Homo sapiens: one gene and its partners. The protein of the gene in region 1 purifies or fractionates together with the protein of each later gene. This does not show direct contact. Each region holds a gene or a part of one and is shown in the gene's direction. Other genes may lie near its edges.

Region 1 (3,500 bases):
AGAAACCTTTTCCACACCAGTTCTGCAGCAGTCGCTATTAGATGCTCGTGGTAGAACCCATCAATCATCTGGTCCTCTGGGTACTGGTGAGCATCCCTGGTCTTCATACCTGTGAGTGGGCTTTGTGGTGAATTACTGTAAATATGCTACCCTCACTTTTCTTGGCAGTTATGTCGATGAAATCAAGAGTGTGATGTTCTAGTTATTTTTTTTTATATATATTTTTAAATGTTCAATATTCAACTATTGAAACAAATGTACATCTGTGAACTAGCTAAAATCATCTTATGTACCACTAATATGCCCAGCACATTTTGTAAAACAGTCCTGATTTGGCCTCCAAGGGTATTTATTGAACTACCAGCAGTATCTAGGAGACCACGAAGGAATACCACGAAGGAATTTATGCTCCAGTGCTTGCCATAATTTGTCTGAGAAGGAATCTGTTAAATAAAAGCTTTTATCCTCTAACCTTTACCTTCATCAGACCTTATAAAAGGTCAAATGGTGATTCTTAAGTTTTTTAGTCACAAATCTTACTTATTCAGTATTAGTGCGAAGAGTAGAATACTTTCAAGTAAGCCTAAACTTACATGAAAACAAATTACATAAATCTAGCTCTGAGAATAGGAAATTAGTGACAAGATCAATCTGTAAGATGTTGAGCACTTATCTGAAGTAAATGGGTAATGAGTTTCACATCTTATAAATACAAGTTAGCATGTGTTTTCTCAAGAGTCCAAGGGTTTTCATTATTGGACTACAGCTTTAATCTTCTAAATGTTATTCCCCAAGATTAAAGAGCATCTCAAGTTAGATCACCAAAGATCAAAAGCTAAAACCAGAAGTATTTTTGTCATTGTGGTGGTGGTAGTGTTACTAATTGCCTAGATTTTTAAAGGGAAACATTTTTTTCACTGGGTTGTTTCGTTGAAAAAAATAGAAGCAGAAACTTGCCCAAAGTCACAGTGGTCAAACTGGAAATTGCACCAAAACTTGGCATACTGGTTCTGAAATCCATAGTTTTAGCCCTTATGTATACTGGTTAATTTGGAAGGAAGAAATATATACGTTCTGAAGTGAAGAGTGAGTGAAAGGAAGAATTCAGTGAATACATTGATACCTTGATATTATCTGCATTGTGGCTACATGTTACTTTTCTTCACAAGAGTGATATAAGTGAAATAAAGAATGATTGGACTGGGAGAAAAATGGCTCAGAAAACTTTGCAAAAGTACGACTGTATGTAAAGATAAGTATTCAACATTAAATGGGAAGGAGGAGAGCAAGCAGTTTAATATATAGAATTTTATAATTTTAGGCCTGCAAGGGACCTTATAAAACATGAGCAATGGAACACTTTTTTCCAAACTAAATTTCGTGCAGTGGAACTTGGCCGACTCTGTCCTTCCTCTATTCTAAGCACCCTACTCTAGCCCGGCTGCTCTGAGTTCAGTTTGTTACAAATATGGACACGAAAGTACCACAGGCTTTGCACAGCTTAATTGAAGTTTCCCCTTCACACCATGGTAAAAAAACATACTGGGATGGAAGGGTTTGTGTCTAGAACAAGAACAAGAAATAAACTCTTGGTCACTTACTAATATTTCAAAATCACAAAGCAGAATTTTGCTTGGATGTTTAGTAAAACATCCTTGGAAATTTAACTGCTTGCAGCTTCTACACTTCTTCATTAAATGCTGTCTGGCTAATAAAAAGTGCCATGTTGCAGCTTTATTTTATTTTCATTTTTTGGAGATAGACCCTCACTGTGTCACCCAGGCTGGAGTGCAGTGGTACAATCTCTGCTCACTGCAACCTCCACCTCCTGGGCTCAAGTGATTGTCCTGCCTCAGCCTCCTGAGTAGCTGGGGTTACGGGCGTCCACCACCACACCCAGCTAGTTTTTGTATTTTTAGTAGAGGGGGTTTTTGCCATGTTGGCCAGGCTGGGCATGGTGGCATGGTAATCTCAGCTACTTGGGAGGCTGAGGCAGGAGGATCGCCTGAACCCGTGAGATGGAGGTTGCAGTGAGCTGAGATCACACCACTGCACTCTAGCATGGGTGACAGAGCAAGACTCTGTCTCAAAAAAAAAAAACAAAAAAAAAAACGAAAACAGAATTCTGTTTGTTTGGATGACCTGTTATACTTATTTTTGATCTTGCTGAAATAAGCAAATCTTAGGAATCTTAGTCTACAGTTTCTGACAGTTTTTTTTGTTGTTGTTGTTTGACCAATTAGAACTAAATAAAAAGAACGTGATTTTCACATTTAAATTTCTCTTAAATGTATTCCTAGAACAGTAAGCCATTGGTTTAATTGCTACTTGATGCCAGTTTCCTTGAAGATAGCCGTTAAGATAAAACATGGTTTCATTGTTAATTCTGTAGAAAGTTACATGTTACTATTATGTTATTCTATTGGTGTATTGTTCCTTTTACTCACCACAGAGATTGTCCAAACACTTGTCATTATTGGGGCAGGCACTGCAGGTGGCTCCTCTCTTATATGGCCAAGTTGGGTAATTCCCTCTGTAAAGCAGAAGAAGGATGTCCATTAGAAGTTTTTCGGTTTTTTAAAATTGCAATTTACTATGAATCCTTAACTAAATCCAGAAGAATAGTGGAGTGAAGTACAAAGGTCCAGAGAGTTGGTAATAGAAGTGAAGACAGGAAGGCAGAAATGGAAGGCTGCTAATATTTGCATAGTTCATTCTATGTACCTGTGTCTATGCACCTGTTTTAATCTGCATCCCATTTAATTGTGACAGCTCTGAGAGGAAGTTATTCTTGTTTTACAGATGAGACAAAAGATGTAAGAGATACCTTTAATCACAATTTATACACTTCAGAGTCAGAGGAAACCTGGATTTAACTCCAGGGCTGTGCTCCCTCTCTTTACCTACCCTCTGGCCTATATGATTACTGCCATTTAAAAAACTGTCCATCTTAGAAAAGCTATGGTGACCCACATTCAATATTCTCAGTTGGTCAGCCCTCCATAATTTTCACTGGATAGGAGCCATTTGGCTGGTGCCTTCCAAAAAAATAATAAATAATGGTATGGGGGAATTTCTAAAGTACAAATTGTTTTCACATACAAGATGTGATATGAATAATAGCTGCTAATTAGTGAGCACTACCATGTGCTTGTCTTTGTTCTAAACAACCTTGAATGAAATAATCTTCACAAAAACCCTATGAGGAAGTTACTGTTGTCTATTTATACCCATTATATAGCTAGAGGCTGAGTCACAGAGTATAAGTAATTGACCAAGGTCACAGACTAGAAAGTGAAATAATATCCAAGCATTTTATATCCCCATAAATATCCTCATAGTAGTAATGGGGAGAGGGGGCACATTTATCTCAATGAACCTGCCATTGCACTAATTTTTTTTGGAACTCTGCTTTTGGAAAAAGTTCTAAACTTTTTTGTGTAATCGTACCCTTTGGCAGTCTGGTGAGGCCTATGGGCTCTTTCTCAACATAGTTTGTT
Region 2 (3,500 bases), on another chromosome or scaffold:
CACCTTCAAGCAGGGTGTGGAGGGACTCTGTGGTCTGGGTGGGGCTTACCCCACGTGGAGAGGCGGCGGCTTCTGCCAATTCAGCAGAATTCCCTTGGCCACAGGACAGGTTCAAGAAAAGCCAAGTGACCCTCTGCAGGTAAAAATCTTCTTGCTCAGTCCTTAGGAGTTTCTAGCTCTCTCCTTACTGGACTTGAAGAGAACACACAGTTTGTACCTGCTCCCAGCCACCTTGTAACACAGGTGGAGCCTGTCTGAGAATGGAGACAATCTTTGGGGCAGCAGAGGTTGCAGTGGAGAAAAACAAGGTGCTGGCACCAGCAGTTGAGCTCCTGCACAAAGTTGTGCTTCACTTTCCCCCTTAAAACTAGCATGGCTGCCAGGCCTGGTGGCTCACGCCTGTAATCCCAGCACTATGGGAGGCCAAGGTGGGGGGATCATGTGGTCAAGAGACTGAGACCATCCTGGCCAACATGGCGAAACCCCGTCTCTATTAAAAACTACAAAACTTAGCTGGGTGCGGTGGCAGGTGCGTGTAATCCCAGCTACGTGGGAGGCTGAGGCAGGAGAATCGCTTGAACCTGGGCAGCAGAGGTTGCAGTGAGCCGAGATTGCACCACTGCACTCCAGCCTGGGCGACAGAGTGAAACTGTCTCCAAAAAAAAAAAAAAAAAATCCTTAATAGCATGAAATATCCAATCTGTTTAGTTTTTCTCATCAAATGTTTTTTATGAGCAATCCAAATGAGGACCACCCACTGCATTTGGTTAATATGTCTGCCAAGACGCTCTTAAAATCTAACAGTTCTTACCCATCTTTTTCTGTACAGTTTATTTGTTGGGGACATAGGTCATATGCCTTGTAGAGTTTCACATATTTGGGGTTTGTTGACTGCATCCTGTTGTCTCACTTACCATGTTCCTCTGTCCCCTGTATTTCCTATAAACTAATATTAATAGTTAAGATTTGACACAGTTGGGTGTTTTTTTTTTTGACACTTACTTTTGTAAGAATACTTCATAGGTTGGTGCAGCGTTCTTCCTGTTGGCATCACCTCTGGCATCTGATGCGTGATTATTGCCTGTGCATGTTAATGATCGGTCGGTGGGTTTGGGTGTTGATGGTCTGACACATCCACTTTCAAGTTTCTTAATATCGTTTGTTTGTTTGTTTGTTTGTTTGTTTGAGAGACAGAGTTGCTCTGTTGCCCAGGTTGGAGTGCAGTGGCACGATTATAGCTTACTGCAGCCTCAAATTCCTGGGCTCAGGTCATCCTCCCACTTCAGCCACCTGAGTACTTGGGACTACAGGCACATGCCACCATGCTCTGCCAATTTTTTGGTTTTGTTGTTGGTGTGTGTGTGTGTGTGTTTAAGACAGGGTCTTGCTCTGTCGCCCAAGCTCCATGGAGTACAATGTTGTAGAGATTGGGTTTTGCTGTGTTGCCCAGGCTGGTCTCAAACTCCTGAGCTCAAGTGAGCCGCCACGCCTGGGTGATATCTTTTCATCTAATGTTTTAGCAGCTATTTATGATCCTTGCCCAAAGCCTTCAATTCACTGGGGATATATGTGGTCTTTGAACATGATTAAATATAAGTGCAGGTCACTGTGGCCAAGAAAAAAAAAGTTACTGCAATCATGACCGCAGTTGGCTCAGCTCTAGTGGGGTTTATTACTCATACCATACTTACATTATCCACGTGAGGATCCCCAGGCATGACTTGTTCATAACAAGAGGGCAAGAGAACCAGTTGGTACATCTTCTCTCCAACTGTGAAAGGGAATATACTTTAATAAACTAGTTTTATGTTAGTTCCTGATATCCTGGTTTTACATGGAAAACTATCATAAAAGAATCAAAATGCAGGCCGGGTGTGGTGGCTCATGCCAGTATTCCCAGCACTTTGGGAGGCCGAGGCCAGCAGATCACCTGAGGTCAGGAGTTCCGGACCAGCCTGGCCAACATGGTGAAACCTTGTCTCCACTAAAAATACAAAAAATTAGCCAGGCGTGGTGGCACGCGCCTATAATCCCAGCTACTCTTGAGGCTGAGGCAGGAGAATCGCTTGAACCCAGGAGGCAGAGGTTGCAGTGAGCCTAGATTGTGCCACTGCACTCCAGCCTGGGCAACAGAGCAAGACTCTATCTCAAAAAAAAAAAAAAGAATCAAAATGTACCATTATAAAATTGTTGATGGGAGAAAGACCCTTAGCAAAGTGGAAATCAATACCTGTAAATTAAGGTTAACGCACTCTGAATACACTAAACAAACTTTGGTCCATTAAAAGGTCTTTTTGTCACTTTTTTTTTTTTTTTTAAGAGACGGACTCTCGCTCTGTCGCCCAGGCTGGAGTGCAGTGGCGCAATCTCAGCTCACTGCAAAGTGCAAACTCCACCTCCTGGGTTCACACCATTCTACTGCCTCAGCCTCTGGAGTAGCTGGGACTATAGGCGCCCGCCACCATACCCGGCTAATTTTTTTTGTATTTTTAGTAGAGACGGGGTTTCACTGTGTTAGTGAGGATGGTCTTGATCGTCTGACCCCGTGATCCGCCCACCTCAGCCTCCCAAAGTGCTGAGATTACAGGCATGAGCCACCGCGTCTGGCCCTTTTTGTCACTTTTTAAGCATCTTTTGGAGTATTAAGATCACATTGATTCTAAATATTTGTTTGCATTCATCTAGTTTATAGCACTTTGTTGCTCCAAAAGATTTCTCCTAGGATCTCCTAGTAAAATCCTAATAAAGACCATTTGTAACACACATCAAGACTTGAGGATTCTGTTTGTGTTCTAATTTCATGTATCCATAGGCTCGGAAACTCCAAGACTGTACACCTACCTTATCATTTTGTGATTCTTTATGTCAGTCAGCAAATACTTTATGACACCTGGGGTCTACTCAGGAGATTTAAGGCTGAACGAGACTGGTCACTCAATCATAGATCATGAAGGCAGAGGTAGAGCCCTGAGTAGCTAGAGTCAGAACAAAGCCAACCCTGGTGATGCTGCAGTAAATGATCACCGTTACAGGGAGGGTGATTGACAAAGCCAACCTGGTGATGCCACAGTAAATGATCACCGTTGCAGGGAGGGTGATTGACAAAGCCAACCTGGTGATGCCACAGTAAATGATCACCGTTGCAGGGAGGGTGATTGACAAAGCCAACCTGGTGATGCCACAGTAAATGATCACCGTTACAGGGAGGGTGACTGGGAGGCAGCCACTTTTGACCTTATACTAGGATCCTTAAAAGGTAATTTTTGCAAAAATATTCCAAAGCAGCGTCAGTGTCCCCAGGCCCTTTCCTAGGCCTTTGACTTTCAGATGTACTGTTTGGAGCTCCTGTGTCCTCAGCCTGGCTGGTTTTCTGTTCCTCGGAAGTGGGGCTGCCCGTTGCTGGGGCTTCATATGACTTGAGCAGGTCCCCCGCATCTCTTGTAAGATTTGCAGTTTTACTTCACAAGACCAGCGAAAATGTCAGTGTGCAGGATGGCTGC
Region 3 (3,500 bases), on another chromosome or scaffold:
GAATGACCCCAACCCCACCAGATGGTGACAAGCACAATACTCTTGGACAGCTGGGAATTGGTGGATTTGGGATTTGAATCCTCTGTCTAACCCTGGCCCTGCCCTGTGGGATTCTCTGCCACGGCAAAGAAGGGGGTTGTGGGTGATGGCAGGTGTCTTTGGTGGGTTAACAGCATCGTCATCAGACAGTGAGGAGGACCCAGAAGCCTTGGAGAAGCAGAAGAAAGTGCGGCCCATGTACCTGAAGGACTACGAGAGGAAGGTTATCTTGGAGAAGGCAGGGTATGGAGAAGGCCTACATCCCCACCCCCTGGTTCCCAGCCCTGTCAGGTCTATGGGGGTCTTAGGGGCAGGAGAGGGAAAAAAGCTGGCAGCCTGGGCCGGGCATGGTGGCTCATGCCCATAATCCCAGCACTTTGGTAGGCTGAGGCAATAGGATCGCTTGAGGACAGAAGTTTGAGACCAGGCTGGGCAACATACCCCGCCTCTACAAAAAAATTAAAAATTAGCTGGGCATGATGATGTGTACCTGTAGTCCCAGCTACTCAGGAGGCTGAGGCAGGAGGATTGAGCCAGGAGATGGAGGCTGCAGTGAGCTATGATCAGGCCACTGCACTCCAGCCTGGGCAACAGAATAAGACCCTGTCTCAAAAAGAAAAAAGGCCGGGCATGGTGGCTCATGCCTGTAATACCAGCACCTTGGGAGGCTGAGGCGGGCAGATCACCTGAGGTCAAGAGTTTGAGACCACCCTGGCCAACATGGTGAAACCCCGTCTCTACTAAAAATACAAAAATTAGCCAGATGTGGTGGTGGGCGCCTGTAGTCCCAGCTACGTGGGGAGGCTGAGGCAGGAGAATCGCTTGAATCTGGGAGGTGGAGGTTGCAGTTTTCCGAGATCATGCCACTGCCCTCCAGCCTGAGGGATAGAGCGAGACCCTGGCTCCAAAAAAGAAATGCTGTCACCCATGATTGGAAAAGAAAAAAAAAAAAAAAACGCTGGAAACTCACCAGAATCGCAGATAGCCCTGAGAGCAGGAGTCTCAGTGATTCCATAGCCCTCCGATGACCCCCGCCAGCTGTTGCTTGGAATAGCTGCTCCGCATGGGCATGGGGACAGGCGGGCCCTGGAAGATATATTCTGAAGACCCCACTTTTCCTTTACAGCAAATATGTTGATGAGGAGAACTCAGACGGGGAGACTTCCAATCACAGACTCCAGGTGGGTGGGGTGAAGGCTGGGTCGGGGGGCTGAGGGGCCTGGGGCTGGCCTGAGACCTATGGCCCTCTCTGCAGGAGACATCGTCGCAAAGTTATGTGGAGGAACAGAAACAGCTCAAGGAAAGGTGAGGCTGGGTGGGCGGGAATGGCCCAATGGAGGAAAGTTGAGGCTCGGGGGTTGGATAGGCACGGGTTCAAATTGAGCTCTGTCACTTTCTATGTGCTTCAGTTTCCTCATCAGTTAAACGGGGTTAATAACATCACAGCACTGCTCTGAGCTTGTTGAGAGGAGAGCTCAGGGCTTAGTAAATGGGGTTAATCTTGGGGCAGCCAGCCAGGTGAGGTGGCTCATGCCTGTAATCTCAGGGCTTTGGTGGGCAGAGGAGGGAGGATCACTTGAGCCCAGGAGTTCAAGATCAGCCTGGGCAACATAGTGAGACCCCAGCTCTACAAAATAAAATAAATACTGGGGCAGCAGACAGGGGCCAGCCTGCCTGTCCTGAGGCTTGTTTTCTCTCGTGGGCAGCTTCCGGGCATTTGTGGAGGACAGTGAGGACGAGGACGGCGCTGGGGAGGGCGGCTCCAGTTTGCTGCAGAAACGTGCCAAAACCAGGCAGGAGAAGGTGGGTACTGGGGCCTGACTGGACTGCTGGGGGACAGGGTGGCGGGTGGCTGGGCATCTGCGGATGCTCAGTGCTAGCTTTCCCCCAGGCCCAGGAGGAGGCCGACTACATCGAGTGGCTGAAGGGACAGAAAGAGATTCGGAACCCAGATTCCCTGAAGGAACTGGTGAGTTCTCACGCATGGTCGCTGATGGAGTAGACCGCGTGTTCCGCGTCCATCCAACCTATTTACAGAAAGTAACCCTCTGAAGATGGGATATGTACATCTCTGGGCCTCAGCTCCTACATCTCTTTAAATGGGGATAGGCTGGGTGCCGTGGTTCACACCTGTAATCCCAGTGCTTTGGGTGGTCAAGGCAGGAGGATTGCTTGAGGCCAGGAGTTTGAGACTGGCCTGGGCAACATAGCAAAATGGCTCTACAAAAAAATGAAAAAATTAGCCAGGCATGGTGGCATGCACCTGTAGTCTCAAATACTTGGGAGGCTAAGGTGGGAGGATCTTGTGAGCCCGGGAGGTTGGGTCTGCAGTGAGCTATGATCACACGACTGTACTGTCACCTGGATGGCAGAGTAAGACCCTGTCTCGAAATAAAAATAAGAAACCAAAATGGGGCTAATGTCACCTACTCCAGAGGCTGGCTGTGAGGTCCATGTGGTGAGCATGCCTGCCCTCCTTCCCTGTCCTCCATTGACCAGAGTCCTGTCTCCTGTCACCCCCAGACGCATCTCAAGGAATACTGGAACGACCCTGAGTTGGATGAAGGGGAGCGGTTCCTGCGGGATTACATCCTCAACAAACGCTATGAGGAGGAGGAAGAGGAGGAGGAAGATGAAGAGGAAATGGAGGAAGAGGAGGGGTGAGCCACTGCATCTCCCCAGGACCTAGATTTTGGGTGCGCTTCATGAAGTATTCCCAGGCGGCACTGGCCAGGAGGCAGAGGGCACCATGTGTGTATTTTTTTCACAGATGGTGGCAGAGTTAGTCTTCTGTAAGGCAGAGCCACAGAGTATAGGCTCTGGAGCCAGGTGGCACTGCCTCAAATCCTGGTTCGGCTTCAAGACTTTCATGCCTCAGTTTCCCCATCTGTAAAATGAGGACAATAGCAGCGTGCACCTTGTAGGGTTCTTGTGAGGATTAAATGAGTTCATACGCTTCGTACCCAGGCGTGCAGGAAAGGGGGGCTCGACCTCACTTGGCTGGCCCCCTGGCATCACCACATCTTGCCCCTCAGGGTCCACGGTCCCCCAGTCCAGCTGGCTGTGGACGACTCCTCAGACGAAGGGGAGCTGTTTCTGAAGAAACAGGAGGACTTTGAACAGAAGTACAATTTCCGTTTCGAGGAGCCGGACTCAGCATCGGTGTGTGGCTGGGGCTGGGGAGGACTCAGCCCCCAGGGTTCAGGCCCAGGGAACCCCACATCATCTCTGCGGCCCTTGTGGGCTTTTCTGATTGCGCCTAGGTCAAGACCTACCCACGCAGCATCGCGTCCTCCGTGCGCCGTAAGGATGAGCGCAGAAAGGAGAAGAGGGAAGAGACTCGGGAGCGAAAGAAGAGGGTGAGTGTGGGGGGTGAGCTGGGGAGGACCCCCCAGCCCTGGAGGAAAGCCCATGCCCTCCCCCTCTCTGCCTGGGCCTGCAGGAGAAAGCAAAGAAGCAGG
Region 4 (3,007 bases), on another chromosome or scaffold:
GGAACATATGTAGTTGGGTTTTGCTCTGCGGGCTCAACCAAAAATCTTTTTCTTTTGATAAGTGGATTAAGACCATTCACATTTGTTGAAATTACCAAATGTTTGGTTTAGTTTCTGTCATTTTATTGTTACTGTGTTTCTTTCTCTATAATGTGTTTTCTTTGTTTTCTATTAAATTTTTCTTTCTTCATCTCATTTTTTGTTCTCTTTCTGCTTTTGTCCGATAATGTTTATCATGTTTCCATTCAAATTTATTCTTTCTTGTAATATAGTCTTCATTTGTAATATAATTTTTTTCTTGTTTGCCATGTCTGAGGTTAGTCAACTCTTGTCTCATTATTTGTATTTTTTTTTTTTTTGCTTCAGTTCTAATCTTAGTTTTTGAATTTCAATTCAGAATGTTCTTTAATTTTCCCAAAGAGGGGTGTTTAATTCTGTTTGGATTTTTGCTTGTTTTCTTCAGCTATATGTTTTTTGTTGTTGTTGTTTTGGGAGATGAGAACTGGGAGTAAGGGCGGCTCTGCTGGTAATTTTCATGAGCTGATGTGTTTTTGTTCTCTGTTTTCTTCTGTAGGTAGCAATGTACAGATAAAGAGTACTTTAACGCCCATGCGTGTTCAAGACTGTTCAAGACTGGTGATTTGGAGTAGTTTACAAGATTCCTCATTCAGAGTGCCCTCTTGTGTGACTGGGGTGATGTGCAGCTTCCATAATGGATGGGACAGAGAGCTGGGATCTAATGTACAAGTGAAGGGCTTGGTCTTCCCTGAGACATTCCAGCCATTGGAATAGGAGAGGAGCATATATGGCAGAGGTGATGGCTGGTGGGTAAATGTGATAGTAAATTGTAGAAACCTCTTCTGATTGATTGGATTTCCTTAATAAAATCGGAAGCAAGGTTAGGCTGAGTGAGGGTGAGTAAAGAGGTAGAGGAGGTTTGAGGAGAGAGAACTGCTCGGAAGACATTGGTAGATGGACCATAAAAACAGAGTTAGTTCTCTTTATGACATTAAATAGTTTTACAACATATTTTTAATGGTTCACAATTTCATTTTAGGGCTTAAAATAAATTATGGTTCTATGATTTTTTTAAACCAGTTTCCTATTGTTAGACATTTGTTTCCAGTTTCTTACTATTATAAATAAAGTGAAACAATATCTCTTACTATACCATTTCTAAATTTAGAGTTCGTAACTTTTCTGTTGTTAAAATATAAGAATATTTATCTTTCTCATTGGTTTATAAACTGTAGTCAGATTATACACTTGTGTGAGTTACAAACTTTAGGAGTGTGATGGTATCATTAACACAAGATTCAAATACTAATGTTCCAAGTACAAATAATAATGAGATTCTAAATATGCAGTTTTATATAGTAATATTGATTATTGGTTATTATTAGACAAATACCATGAAATGGAAACTCGTCATTATATTGTTTTATTGTTGGGAAAAGTAATAGTATTACCAACTTGCTGGACATACAGAGTACACCAAAGCTAGTGATACTTCTTAGCAAAGTCCTATTTGAAAATAGGAATCAAAGTTATTTTCATTGTTATCTAATCCTGCTAAAGCAAGAAAGGGAATTGCATATACTCCAAGCAAAGGTTTATCAGACAAGACGAAAGAAAGCAGGAAACAAGGGTAAATCCTAGGCCCTTAGAAGCAGGAAACTGAGGAATGGAGAGCAAGTCATCTCTCAGTGCCCTTTTGCTGTCTGCCCAGGTTGATTGGTTCGCTTCTCAGCTGTGGCTCGGGAGGTGGGCAAGGCACTTCTTATTTAAGTCTCATAACAACCTTATACAGTGGATAATGCAATTCATTGCATAGAAAGGGAATAAATAGGAATGCTTAATTTTTTAATTTTCATGAGCCTTGTCAATACTTGTAGTTAATCTTATACTACAGTCTAGCAGTTTACTTCCTAATATTACCTCATGTATAATAGTTTGATACTTATAAAGTATAGATTTTATATATAAAGTTTATATATAAGGAAAAAAATAATTGTTATATTTCTGAGGCAGTACCCATCTCACTTGTAAACTTAAAAGACACCGCAGAGATTTGAGGGACTCAGAAGTCAAATAGAGTAGGTTAAAAACCTCTTATTTTTCAAATTAATTGTTTTAAGAAACAAGCATACCTGTGTAAGTGAAATATCTTAATTTGTGTTGAATCAAGTTAGGAGACAGAGATTCTCATGAATGTGTCCTGTGTTCTCAAAGCAGCTGCTAGCCTGTGGGTCTCTCCTACCTGGGTTATGGCAGCACCTCACAGCCAATCACTGGCCTCCATTCTCCCCTTTCCTCTGTACAGTTTGCTCTGGTTCCTCAGAGCAGATTTCCGAGTATACTGCTTCAGCCACGCCCCCACTGTGCCGTTCCCTGAACCAAGAGCCATTCGTCTCAAGAGCCATTCGTCCAAAGTACTCTATCACCTAGCCATTGTAGCCATACCAAGCCGGGCTTCCTACTTCCCTCTGCTCCCCTTGGTTTCCTCCTGTGAAGTAAATCTCACTGACCCTTGATGCAGCTCCAAGCATATATAATATATATATAATAAAACCATAGTCTAAAAAATTCAAACCAGGAGAAATAAAGCCAGAAAGTTGTATGGGAAAAATCTGCACAGATTTATTTGGCCAGCATGGTTATCATGGCTCTATTGAATTTATCCTTGACCGTCTTTAAAGCCAAAGCAAACGGGATAAAGTGATCAACTACTTACCTCTCAATACCAGAAAGGAAGCAGGAGGCAAAATCTCTCAATAATTTCATAAAAACAATTCTTAGCTGGGCGCGGTGGCTCACACCTGTAATCCCAGCACTTTGGGAGGCCGAGGTGGGCGGATCATGAGGTCAGGAGATCGAGACCATCCTGGCTAACATGGTGAAACCCCATCTCTACTAAAATTACAAAAAATTAGCTGGGCGAGGTGGCGGGCACCTGTAGTCCCAGCTACTCGGGAGGCTGAGGCAAGAGAATGGTGTGAACCCCAGG
Region 5 (3,500 bases), on another chromosome or scaffold:
TTTTGAAAATAAGTTTATAGTTGTAAAAAAGAAATGGTCAACATAAAACATGTATTATTTTCATTTGTCTTAAAATGAAGGTTATGAAATCAACTTGTCTAACAAACTTGTGTTTTGGTCTCAGATTAGACTGTCCCTTTGATACAGCAGTGCAATTGGCAGCTTATAATCTGCAAGGTAAGCAATTCTTATGTTGACTGTTAAGACTCAAGTATAATCTTTTTTGTGTGTGTTTTTAGTTAAAGAAGATTCTAATTATGTGCAAGAAAAGAAACAACACTGTTTTTGTATAAACTTGTATCAGGGTCCAACTCTGACTTTTACTTGTTTTAGAACATTGCCTTCTTTTTCTTCTCTTTCATGTAATTGCGCCCTTTCCACCTAAAGTGTTGAAACGTCATACTCTACCTGATAAGTCTGTAAATGCTAAGATTGGGCCTTCGGCTAACTTTTTCCTTAAAAGAAATGCAGTTATGTAGGAGTGAATTGTTGGTGAAGCCATATAGCTTAGCAGTCCTTTTGCTCCAAACCTACATTTTGTTCAGAAATAACCACAGATGAGTACATACATGTTTGTGCATTGTTCAGATTTTTCCCTGCTGCTTTCTCCCCCCGATTTTTTTTAGTTCCTTTCAGTTATTTCTTTAGGATTAATAATTTTAAAATTTTGGAAGACAGGGACTATATTTAGATTGGTATATGGGGTCATATTCAGTGTATATCAGTATATTCTTTTGTTTTGTTTTTTTTTGAGACAGGGTCTCACTCTTGTCCCCAGGCTAGAGGGCAGTTGCATGATTGTAGCTCTCTGAAGCCTTGAACTACTGGGCTCAAACGATCTTCCTGCCTGAGTAGCTGGGTCTACAGGCCATTAGGCCTGGCTAATTTTTGTACTTTTTTTTTTTTTTTTTTTTTTTTTTAGAGACGAGGTCTTGCTATGTTGCCTAGACTGGCCTGAAACCATCTTCCACCTCAGCCCTCCCAAAGTACTGTGACTATAAGCATGAACCACCACACCCAGCCTTAGTAATATTCTTAATAGATGCCAGTTAATTGTCTTTTAACGATTGCTAAATTTTTTCATTTATTCACTATAAGGTCAGAGGTATTTCTTTATGGAAGTCTAGAAAGCAGTTTTCAAAGGTTAAGTAAGCACTGAAGTGTGAATACATTAAGAGAAAGATATGTAATTAAAAATACACTACCAAAAATAAATATGAGATATATGTGTATGACTAATATGCCAGATTTACTTTTGGAGACTTGTCTGAGTATTATGAATTTTTGTAAGAAATTCCTAAGAATCTTTCTAATCTTAGCAGTTTTCATTAATGAAATGGTTTTTGAAGGATTTAGCAGGAAATACATATAACTTTTGAAACTTATGTTTATAGCTGAACTTGGTGACTATGATCTTGCTGAGCATAGTCCTGAACTTGTCTCAGAGTTCAGATTCGTGCCTATTCAGACTGAAGAGATGGAACTGGCTATTTTTGAGAAATGGAAGGAATACAGGTATCTGGCGTTTGACCATACTTTCTTTAAAATCACCACAACAGTTATTTCATATTCATTTTCTTCTGTTTCTATCCTTGGTATAGAATTTATTTTATATTTATTGTTACTTTAAAAATCATTGTTTTAAATTTCAGAGGTCAAACACCAGCACAGGCTGAAACCAATTATCTGAATAAAGCCAAATGGCTAGAAATGTATGGGGTTGATATGCATGTGGTCAAGGTAAGCATTGTGTTGTGATGCTTTTTTAAAAATTTATTCTTTGGAGGTTCGCAGTGACTGTGGAATTTTTCAGTATGAGGGAGGGCATGGAGTTTGCATAAGCTAGCACTGGGTACTTTGGATGTATGGTTAAAAAGTTTGAGATTAAATACCAAATGACTAGAATCTCACAGAAAGGTTCATTATAAGAAAGAAGAGAAGCAACCAACATCCCTAACAAGGTACTTGGTCCTTTTAAGCTGTTATTTTATTTTATTTTATTTTTTTGCTATAAAAAATTGTTTTAAGCTTTTGAGCCATTTGTTATCCTTTTTACTTCCTGTTATACGACTTACACTGAGTAGGCTCTGTTAAAATAATTCAGGATGCAAAGTTGAAGATTTATAGCTTAAAGACTTTGATAAACTTTAGAACAGCTTTGTAGTGATTTAAGTTATTTCTAGTTTAACTAGTAACATTTTTCCAGAAAGGCGGTTGTATTAGTTCATTCTCGCACTGCTATAAAGACATAAATTTATAAAGAGGTTCAATTGGCTCATGGTTTTGCAGGCTGTACAGGCTTCTCCCTCTCAGGAGGCCTCAGGAAACTTATAATCATTGGGCAACGTGAAGGGCAAACAGGCACATCTGTACATGGCTGGCAGGAGGGAGAGAGAGCAAAGAGGGAGGTGCTACACACTTTCAGACAACCAGATCTTGTGAGAACTCATTCACTATCATGAGAACAGCAAGGGGGAAGTCCGTCTCCATGATTCAGTCACCTCCCACCAGGCCCCTCCTCCAATACTGGGGATTACAATATGACACAAGATTTGGGTGTAGACATAGAGCCAAACCGTATCAGCAGTCTTTTCCAAAATACATGATTTAAGTGGTAAGTATAATATGGGAAGAATGTGGAAACAGCTTTGTTTGTAGTGGGAGTGTAACTACCCACTTTCAATGAAGATACACTTTAAAACTCTAGTGTTTCAATGACTAGAAATAAAAATATATGCATAAATTTTTCTGAGAATATTATTATGGATACTCTAATTGTTGAAAACATCTCATATATTAATATTAGCCTGTATATAATTAATACAATTCAATACAAAAATAAAATTTAAAAGTTGTGTCAATGTGAAACCTGTTTTGTACAAATAAAGCTAACACATTTTTCTCCCCTTAAATTAGGCTAGAGATGGGAATGACTATAGTTTGGGACTAACACCAACAGGAGTCCTTGTTTTTGAAGGAGATACCAAAATTGGCTTATTTTTTTGGTAAGCAAGAGTTATTGTCAAAGATACTTACTGTTGTTTTGGTTTTTAATGAGTAAATAAAGTTAATACATAAACAAGTTTGGAAATCAAATAGTTTTGAAAAACTTGTCAATGAAAGCAACTGTCTCCTGTCACACTATTACGCATCATTATTCCTACTCTCCAGAGGCAATTATTAAAACTCTTCTAGCTGTATTTCCCATTAGTTTCAAAGTATACCACAATCTATATCTTGATATAAATATTTATATTTTTATATGTATCAGATGTTCACATGGGCACTTTCTCCCTCCATGTAGTCATGTCATTGCTTTTAATATTTATTATTCCACAATCCCTTTACCCCCTATTGTGTAAGAGGAAGATACTAATATTTTTATCCCTTCTCTAAGCTGTGCTCCTTATACTGTTCCAGCTTTTATCGTTCATACTTTTAAATTACATTTATGTTTTACTTTTACATCAAGGATAGATTTTACTTGGATTTCTTGGCCA
Region 6 (3,290 bases), on another chromosome or scaffold:
GATTTCTGTTCTCTTTTCTCAGCTTTTACAAAGTCTGGCTCCAGAGTTGCTAGATTATTTCTGAGACACTTAAATGTATATAGACTTACATGCTTTGTATCTATCAAAGCCTGTGTTAGAATTTAATTTAGAATGTTGTTTACAAAACCATAGGAATTTCAAAATGGAAATGTTCCCAAGGAAGTTTACAAGAGAAAGAAGAAGAAATCTATCTCGTTGGAAAGGCAAAAGCCAGTATTAGCAAGGAGGGGAAATAATTACATTGTCTTTCTTATAAACAACTTGGTAGTTTCTTCCATTTTTATAAGATGAGTAATGAGCACTGATGAATTAAACAGATTTGCTCTTTCCCCCTTATAGGAAAAGGCATTAATAGCTGCTCAGCTGGACAATGCCATTGAGAAGGAATTACTGGAGAGACTGAAACAAGATACGGTGAGAAAGCCATTAGCTTTGGGGTACTGAAATTTTAAGTGGTAGTATGTTGCTAAGACATATTGGGAATTTTTTTTTTTTTTTTTTTTTTTTTTTTTTTTTTTTTTTTTTTTTTTTTGAGATGGAGTCTTGCTTTGTTGCCCAGGTTAGAGTGCAGTGGTGCAATCTCGGCTCACTGCAACCTCTGCCTCCCAAGTTCAAGCAATTCTCCTGCCTCAGCCTCCTGAGTAGTTGGGATTACAGGCACCACCACTGCACCCAGCTAATTTTTGTATTTTTAGTAGAGACAGGGTTTCACCATCTTGGCCAGGCTGGTCTTGAACTCCTGACCTCGTGAGCCACTGTGCCTGGCTGGGAAATGTTTTTTAACATGATATGAAGATCTCCACTCGAATTTTATCCCTGGAATAAAATAAATCCATATCGGCCTGGCTTCCTTGCTTTAATTAATGCAAGCACATAAAATGCTTTGGTTACCCTTGATACTCCATTCACTATAAGAGACCTTTCCCTTTTTGCCATTATTCTCAGCTCCATTCCCCAAGACAACAATTCCAGATTTCTGTATAAAAGCCATGGGGTTTTGCTTCTCCTGCATATTACCCTAGTCTTTTAAGGCTCTTTGAAATAAGTTTTTATTCTCTTTTTAAAAATTAGTGTTGTTTATACAGACAACATGACTAAAGTATGCTTTTTCCTTATTATTTCCCCTTGTCAGCAAAATGACATTTGTCCCAATGCATGGGTTTTGTAGACTATTACATTTTAAATTATTTTAAAATGTAACTCCATAGAAGTTACCTATTTGATACTAACTGCAGATGATTTAAATGTTCAAAAGAACATGCTTTTTTAAGACACTGCTGGCTCTACACTTAAAAATATTACTCATCAAATTAAGTATTCTGATTTAATCACTGAGGAAAAAGTAATATTCTCCACAGAAAGTGGAACTTCAAGTGTAATATCCAAATGTAGTTAAAGCCAATCTGTGTTTATGTTCTTCAGTATGGCGACATCTACAACTTCCCCATTCATGCCTTCGACAAAGCCCTGGAACAACAGGAGGCAGAGAGTGACTCTTCAGATACTGAGGAAAAAGATGATGATGATGATGATGAGGAAGTAAGTCTTGTTTTTGTTTTGCCAAACCTACTAGATACCATTTGTATAAAACTGAGAAACAGAATATCATCTTCAGTCCGCTAACCAAAAATGATATGTCTTCTTTTTTCTTTCATGTGATTAATTTTGGTTTAGCACTGGTTGCTCTGTTCTTCAGGCTAACCAACAAACCATTAACAATTTTAGTCTTAATTTATTGGTCTTCTAAAATTGTTCCTGCAAGGTGACAAATTATAAAGCCTTTCCTGTCTATATGTAGTTTTTAACCATAATGAGGATGTTTTATTGCTAATAATTTAAATCAAGAATAAGAATGATCTGGTAGCCCTAAAATTTTTAAAATTCAGAAGCATTAAATTTAGAAAGAACTAAATTTTCATTGCCTAGTGAAAAGACTGTGGTTCTCATTATGTTATTTTGTACTTACTTAGATGTCTAATCTGAATCTTCATTATGTATTCTGAACCTAACAGTTATGTTTTATTTATAGGATGTGGGGAAAAGAGAATTTGTCGAAGATGGTGAGGTAGATGAGAGTGACATAAGTGATTTTGAGGTGAGCTTTATGGGTAAAAAGATTGTCCTTTGGCCTGCAGCAAAAAAAAAAAAAAAACAAAAACAGGGAGGTGGCCAGGCACCGTGGTTCACTCCTATAATTGCAGCACTTTGGGAGGCCAAAATGGGAGGATTGTTTGAGCTCAGGAGTTCGAGACCAGCCTGAAGAACATAGTGAGACCTCATCTCTAATAAAAAAAAAAATTTTTTTTTTTAGATGAAGTTTCGCTCTGTAGCTCAGGCTAGAGTGCCATAGTGCAATCTGGGCTCATCGCAGCCTCAGCCTCCCGGGTTCAAGCGATTCTCCTCCTTCAGCCTCCCAAGTAGCTGGAATTACAGGCATGTGCCACTCCACCCGGCTAATTTTTTGTATTTTTAGTAGACACGGGGTTTCACCATGTTGGCCAGGCTGGTCTAGAACTCCAGACCTCTGGTAATCCGCCTGCCTCAGTCTCCCAAAGTGCTAAGATTAGAGGCATGAGTCACAGGGCCTGGCCTAAAATTTTTTAAAAATCATGACCAGGCGTGGTGGCTCACGCCTATAATCCTAGCACTTTGGGAGGCCGAGGTGGGCGGATCACATGAGGTCAGGAGTTCGAGACCAGCCTGGCCAACATAGCAAAACCCCGTGTCTACTAAAAATACAAAAATTAGCTAGGTATGGTGGTGCATGCCTGTAATCCCTGCTACTTGGGAGGCTGAGGCAGAAGAATCGCTTGAACCTAGGAGATGGAGGTTGCAGTGAGCTGAGAGCGCACCACTACACTCCAGCCTGGGCAACAGAGCGAGACTCCGTCTCCAAAAAAAAAAAAAAAAAAAATTAAAATTCAGCTGGATGTGGTGGCGGTTGCCTGTAGTCCCAGCTACTCAGGAAGCTGAGGTGGGAGGATTGTTGACTACAGCAGTTTGAGGCTGCAGTGAGCCATGACTATGCCACTGCACTCCTGCTTGGGCAACAGAGCAAGACCCCGTCTCAAAAAAAAAAAAAAAAAAAAATTAAAGAAAGGGACAATTTCTGAACACAGACATAGACAAATCAATGCCCTAGTCTGTTCTAGATTGAGGGGACAAGGAAGGGAGTTTGGAGAAATCTAGTGTTTTCCCTCTTCCTTTATCTTTTCTCTCCCCGTAATAGGATATGGATAAACTGGATGCCAGCAGTGATGAAGATCAGG
Region 7 (3,877 bases), on another chromosome or scaffold:
CTGGGGCTGGGGCTCCACAATCGGTTTAACGAGCTCTCCAGGTGATTCTGATGCACGCTACAGCTTGAGAACCACTGCTTGGTGGAAAGAGCTCTCACTGGGACTGAGGTAAGAAGCACAGTGCATTCTACCCACTTTGCGACTGAAGGCTGTCCCTGCCTTTTGCTTTGGAGTTCATATTTCTTGCCTCCCTTTCTGAAATCCCTGAGGGGTAAAGCGGGGCGGGAGGGGAGGTGCGGGGAGTGCATCCTGGGGATGGTGGTAACTGCACAATCTGCTGAGGCCCTGAGTTCAGGACTTTTCCCCTGCTAAACTTTGACCACCTCCTTGCTCCACCCTCCAGCTCTAGACCCCAAGTCAAATGTTGAAAGAATGAAATTGGGTGGTGGCCCCAGCAGGGGTGACAGAGACTCCTGTCTTGCTGTCTCACTTTTCACATGGCCTTTTCCCCAATCAGACAGCTATTAAAAGAAACAACCCCAGGAAGTTTCTGCGCAGCGTTGGAGATGGGGAGACTGTGGAATTTGATGTCGTGGAAGGAGAGAAGGTTTGGGGACTGCTATGGGGTATAGAGTTGACTAGGCTTACGGGAGGGTGGCCTGGAGGTCATCACAGGCTAAGACCCTCCTGGGGCCAGCTCTGACCCGTTCTGCGGGAATGGGACTGTGTTCTCTCACCCTGATGTCCTCTTCCTTAATGCTAGGGCTAAGGGATGTCCTAAGTATGTCCCTGTCATCGGTCGGCAGTGTCTGGGTTTCTTCTCTAGTTCACCAAGCACTTCGACATCCGTTCTCCACGTGGGGCCCTGTCCTAGACTTCCCGAGTCCGCCTCTGGAGTAAAAAGGTGGATGCTGGCTGCCAGGCCTTTCTCCACCCAGTCGTATACTCAGGAGGGTGCAGTAGCAATTATTTCAAAAGGACATGTTGCTCCTTCCCAAATGGGTGCAAGCACATTCCACTGCCTCTCCAGGGAGGGTAGAAAGAAGTTAGAGGAGCTAAAGGAAAGCTGGAGAGGGGTCTTCCCCTGAAAGAAGGGGAAGCAAGTTGGGAAATGCACATTGGCTGTTGGAGCAGGTTCTCACTATTCCCTTACCACCTTCCCAGGGCGCAGAAGCCACTAATGTAACTGGGCCTGGGGGAGTACCCGTGAAGGGCAGCCGTTATGCCCCCAACCGACGTAAGTCCCGCCGATTCATCCCCCGGCCTCCCTCAGTTGCCCCACCACCCATGGTGGCAGAGATCCCCTCGGCGGGGACAGGACCTGGCAGTAAAGGGGAGCGGGCTGAAGACTCTGGGCAACGGCCCCGACGATGGTGCCCCCCACCCTTCTTCTACCGACGGCGGTTTGTGCGAGGCCCCCGGCCTCCCAACCAGCAGCAGCCTATAGAGGTGAGGGGATGCTGGAATATGGGAGCCAGTTCCCCAAGTTCAGGAGAGGAGTGGGAGTTAGGATAGAGACCATGGGTCCCCAAAGAAGGAGGAACTGAGGGTTGGGCAGAGCTGTGGATAATCTGGCTCCAGAGCAGCTGCTGTCCCCACAGCTCACCGGGGCCTTTGCATGTTCCCAGGGCACTGACAGGGTAGAACCCAAAGAGACAGCCCCATTGGAGGGGCACCAACAGCAGGGAGATGAGCGAGTCCCCCCGCCCAGATTCCGGCCCAGGTACCGAAGGTAAGACCCCCCTGCTGGGGCTTGGTCTTCCCCTTCCAGTGTTGGATCCTTGGGGCAAGGGACAGGAGGATGGAAGGGTGAAGCTCTAGGCAGAGCCTGGGCTCCTGGCGAGACAGGTGCCTTGCGGGGAGGCAGTGCTCATGGGCTGGAAGCCTGGCTCCTGGAGGTGGGGTGGGGCAGCTGGGTGAGCCCTGGGGAGGGAGTATTCCCTGGTCCCCTCAGAGCCTTGTTCCTTGCCTTAGGCCTTTCCGCCCCAGGCCACGCCAGCAGCCTACCACAGAAGGTGGGGATGGTGAGACCAAGCCCAGCCAAGGTCCCGCTGATGGTTCCCGGCCTGAGCCCCAGCGCCCACGAAACCGCCCCTACTTCCAGCGGAGACGGCAGCAGGCCCCTGGCCCCCAGCAGGCCCCTGGCCCCCGGCAGCCCGCAGCCCCTGAGGTGAGGACCTCAGATGTGGGATGAAAGAAAAGGCTGAGACCAGCTCCCTCCCCCACCTGCTCCTTTTTCTTTCCTACTCTATCCTTTGGCTCCTCCCCTCCCCTGCCCTGGCCCTGCCACCACCCTCTTCCATGCAGCCTGCTGGGTCCCCCCCTGGCAGGTGCCGCCTCCCACCAGGAAGCCCCCACAGAGGCAATCAAGCCCATGATTGCCCATGATGGCCATGCCCCCCCCAACCCATCCCCCACTTGCTGCCTGGAGCCATCCTACCAGCTTGTAGATGTGAACTGAGGGGTGTGATTGAGGTTTTAATGGGAAGGGAAAAAGTGAAAGAAGGTTGAAGTTCAGGGCCCTGAAGAACAAGTCTCAGCCCTGCGCGATGTCTCATGCCTGTAATCCCAGCACTTTGGGAGGCAGAAGCAGGCAGATCAGTTGGGGTCAGGAGTTCAAGACCAGCCTGACCAACATGGAGAAACCCCGTCTCTACTAAAGATACAAAAATTAGCCAGGCGTGGTAGCACATGCCTGTAATCCCAGCTACTTGGGAGGCTAAGGCAGGAGAATCACTTGAACTGGGAGGGGGAGTTTGCAGTGAGCCAAGATCACGCCACTGTACTCCATCCAACCTGGAGTGAGACTCTGTCTCAAAAACAAAAAGAACAAGTCTCAATTGGCCACCGCTGTTCTTTAGACCTCAGCCCCTGTCAACAGTGGGGACCCCACCACCACCATCCTGGAGTGATTCCAACTCAACTCAGAGGACACCCAGAGCTGCCATCTGGTGAGTGGCTGGTGCAGTTGGGTGGGTGGCCAGGAAGGTGAGGTACTGGGTGGCGATGACAAGTCGCTGTTGTTCACAATCCGTCCATTTCCTTTTCTCTCTCAGGTATCTGCCAGTTTTTCCAAATGACCTGTACCCTACCCAGTACCCTGCTCCCCCTTTCCCATAATTCATGACATCAAAACACCAGCTTTTCACCTTTTCCTTGAGACTCAGGAGGACCAAAGCAGCAGCCTTTTGCTTTTTCTTTTTTCTTCCCTCCCCTTATCAAGGGTTGAAGGAAGGGAGCCATCCTTACTGTTCAGAGACAGCAACTCCCTCCCGTAACTCAGGCTGAGAAGGAACCAGCCAGCTCTTACCTCCTCCTGGTTGCTTTTCTTGCCCCCACCCCAAGTTTATTTTTGTTTTCCCCCGGCCCCCTACCTCTGAAGCCATTTTATGATCTGTCATGTGCCACCTGAGCCTCCAGTAAAAACAAAAACAGGCTTTCCTGTGGTCTTGGTCTCCATCTCTTCTGTTTTGGAGAATCGCTAGTAACTCACTGTTGAAGGTGGGGAGGAGGGGATGTGGGGCCGTGGGCAGGGCCTGGCATCCTTGCTGCCATGTCTCCAGCTGTGTCCCTGGTGAAGAGTGCCCCTATCATGGGTTTCACTGCCCATCTGTGACATGGGCTGACACCTCCCTCACAGAGTGAGTATTCTGCAAATGCCAAGAGCAATGCCCGGCACTGGCAGCTACAATTTATTGAGCATTTACTATTAATAAAGCAACGAGTAGAAATGTGAGTAGGGGCATGAGCAATGGCATCCAGAAGATTCTGAGGCCTTGAGCTGAGGCAGGACAGAGGGAGGAAGAGGGGTGAAGAGTTATGGTCCCTGTCTCAGCCCATCCTCAAGTACCTCCACAATAGGATGCTTGTCTTCAGCAGTGACTTTATAGAAGTATCTATATATATACATTTAGTACAACCGACCTTTGGTTTCTTC

Evidence for each region.
Region 2: the proteins of KRR1 (region 1) and RRP1B purify together in Homo sapiens (affinity purification with mass spectrometry; 2 studies listed by BioGRID and IntAct, with this or other methods). This does not show direct contact.
Region 3: the proteins of KRR1 (region 1) and KRI1 purify together in Homo sapiens (affinity purification with mass spectrometry; 3 studies listed by BioGRID and IntAct, with this or other methods). This does not show direct contact.
Region 4: the proteins of KRR1 (region 1) and ZC3H8 purify together in Homo sapiens (co-immunoprecipitation; 2 studies listed by BioGRID and IntAct, with this or other methods). This does not show direct contact.
Region 5: the proteins of KRR1 (region 1) and EPB41L5 purify together in Homo sapiens (co-immunoprecipitation; 2 studies listed by BioGRID and IntAct, with this or other methods). This does not show direct contact.
Region 6: the proteins of KRR1 (region 1) and MAK16 purify together in Homo sapiens (affinity purification with mass spectrometry; 2 studies listed by BioGRID and IntAct, with this or other methods). This does not show direct contact.
Region 7: the proteins of KRR1 (region 1) and YBX2 purify together in Homo sapiens (co-immunoprecipitation; 2 studies listed by BioGRID and IntAct, with this or other methods). This does not show direct contact.

The regions. Positions count from the first base shown.
Region 1 is NC_000012.12:75,494,610-75,498,109, reverse strand, and holds part of KRR1 (KRR1 small subunit processome component homolog), read left to right. Parts: 3' UTR 1-2,447; coding exon of another isoform or gene 2,448-2,533; 3' UTR 2,534-3,500. Other genes in the region: GLIPR1 (glioma pathogenesis-related protein 1 precursor), read right to left, coding at 2,448-2,533. UniProt on the Homo sapiens protein: Part of the small subunit (SSU) processome, first precursor of the small eukaryotic ribosomal subunit.
Region 2 is NC_000021.9:43,666,060-43,669,559, forward strand, and holds part of RRP1B (ribosomal RNA processing protein 1 homolog B), read left to right. Parts: intron 1-3,500. UniProt on the Homo sapiens protein: Positively regulates DNA damage-induced apoptosis by acting as a transcriptional coactivator of proapoptotic target genes of the transcriptional activator E2F1.
Region 3 is NC_000019.10:10,559,511-10,563,010, reverse strand, and holds part of KRI1 (protein KRI1 homolog), read left to right. Parts: intron 1-173; coding exon 174-282; intron 283-1,165; coding exon 1,166-1,220; intron 1,221-1,294; coding exon 1,295-1,344; intron 1,345-1,745; coding exon 1,746-1,842; intron 1,843-1,930; coding exon 1,931-2,008; intron 2,009-2,562; coding exon 2,563-2,699; intron 2,700-3,074; coding exon 3,075-3,201; intron 3,202-3,302; coding exon 3,303-3,398; intron 3,399-3,481; coding exon 3,482-3,500.
Region 4 is NC_000002.12:112,214,036-112,217,042, reverse strand, and holds part of ZC3H8 (zinc finger CCCH domain-containing protein 8), read left to right. Parts: intron 1-574; 3' UTR 575-3,007.
Region 5 is NC_000002.12:120,075,577-120,079,076, forward strand, and holds part of EPB41L5 (band 4.1-like protein 5), read left to right. Parts: intron 1-124; coding exon 125-177; intron 178-1,394; coding exon 1,395-1,515; intron 1,516-1,652; coding exon 1,653-1,740; intron 1,741-2,916; coding exon 2,917-3,005; intron 3,006-3,500. UniProt on the Homo sapiens protein: Plays a role in the formation and organization of tight junctions during the establishment of polarity in epithelial cells.
Region 6 is NC_000008.11:33,495,182-33,498,471, forward strand, and holds part of MAK16 (protein MAK16 homolog), read left to right. Parts: intron 1-360; coding exon 361-435; intron 436-1,443; coding exon 1,444-1,560; intron 1,561-2,050; coding exon 2,051-2,116; intron 2,117-3,250; coding exon 3,251-3,290.
Region 7 is NC_000017.11:7,287,763-7,291,639, reverse strand, and holds the end of YBX2 (Y-box-binding protein 2), read left to right. Parts: intron 1-63; coding exon of another isoform or gene 64-108; intron 109-457; coding exon 458-547; intron 548-1,104; coding exon 1,105-1,389; intron 1,390-1,568; coding exon 1,569-1,672; intron 1,673-1,914; coding exon 1,915-2,110; intron 2,111-2,801; coding exon 2,802-2,852; 3' UTR 2,853-2,891; intron 2,892-2,996; 3' UTR 2,997-3,377; downstream 3,378-3,877. UniProt on the Homo sapiens protein: Major constituent of messenger ribonucleoprotein particles (mRNPs). Involved in the regulation of the stability and/or translation of germ cell mRNAs. Binds to Y-box consensus promoter element.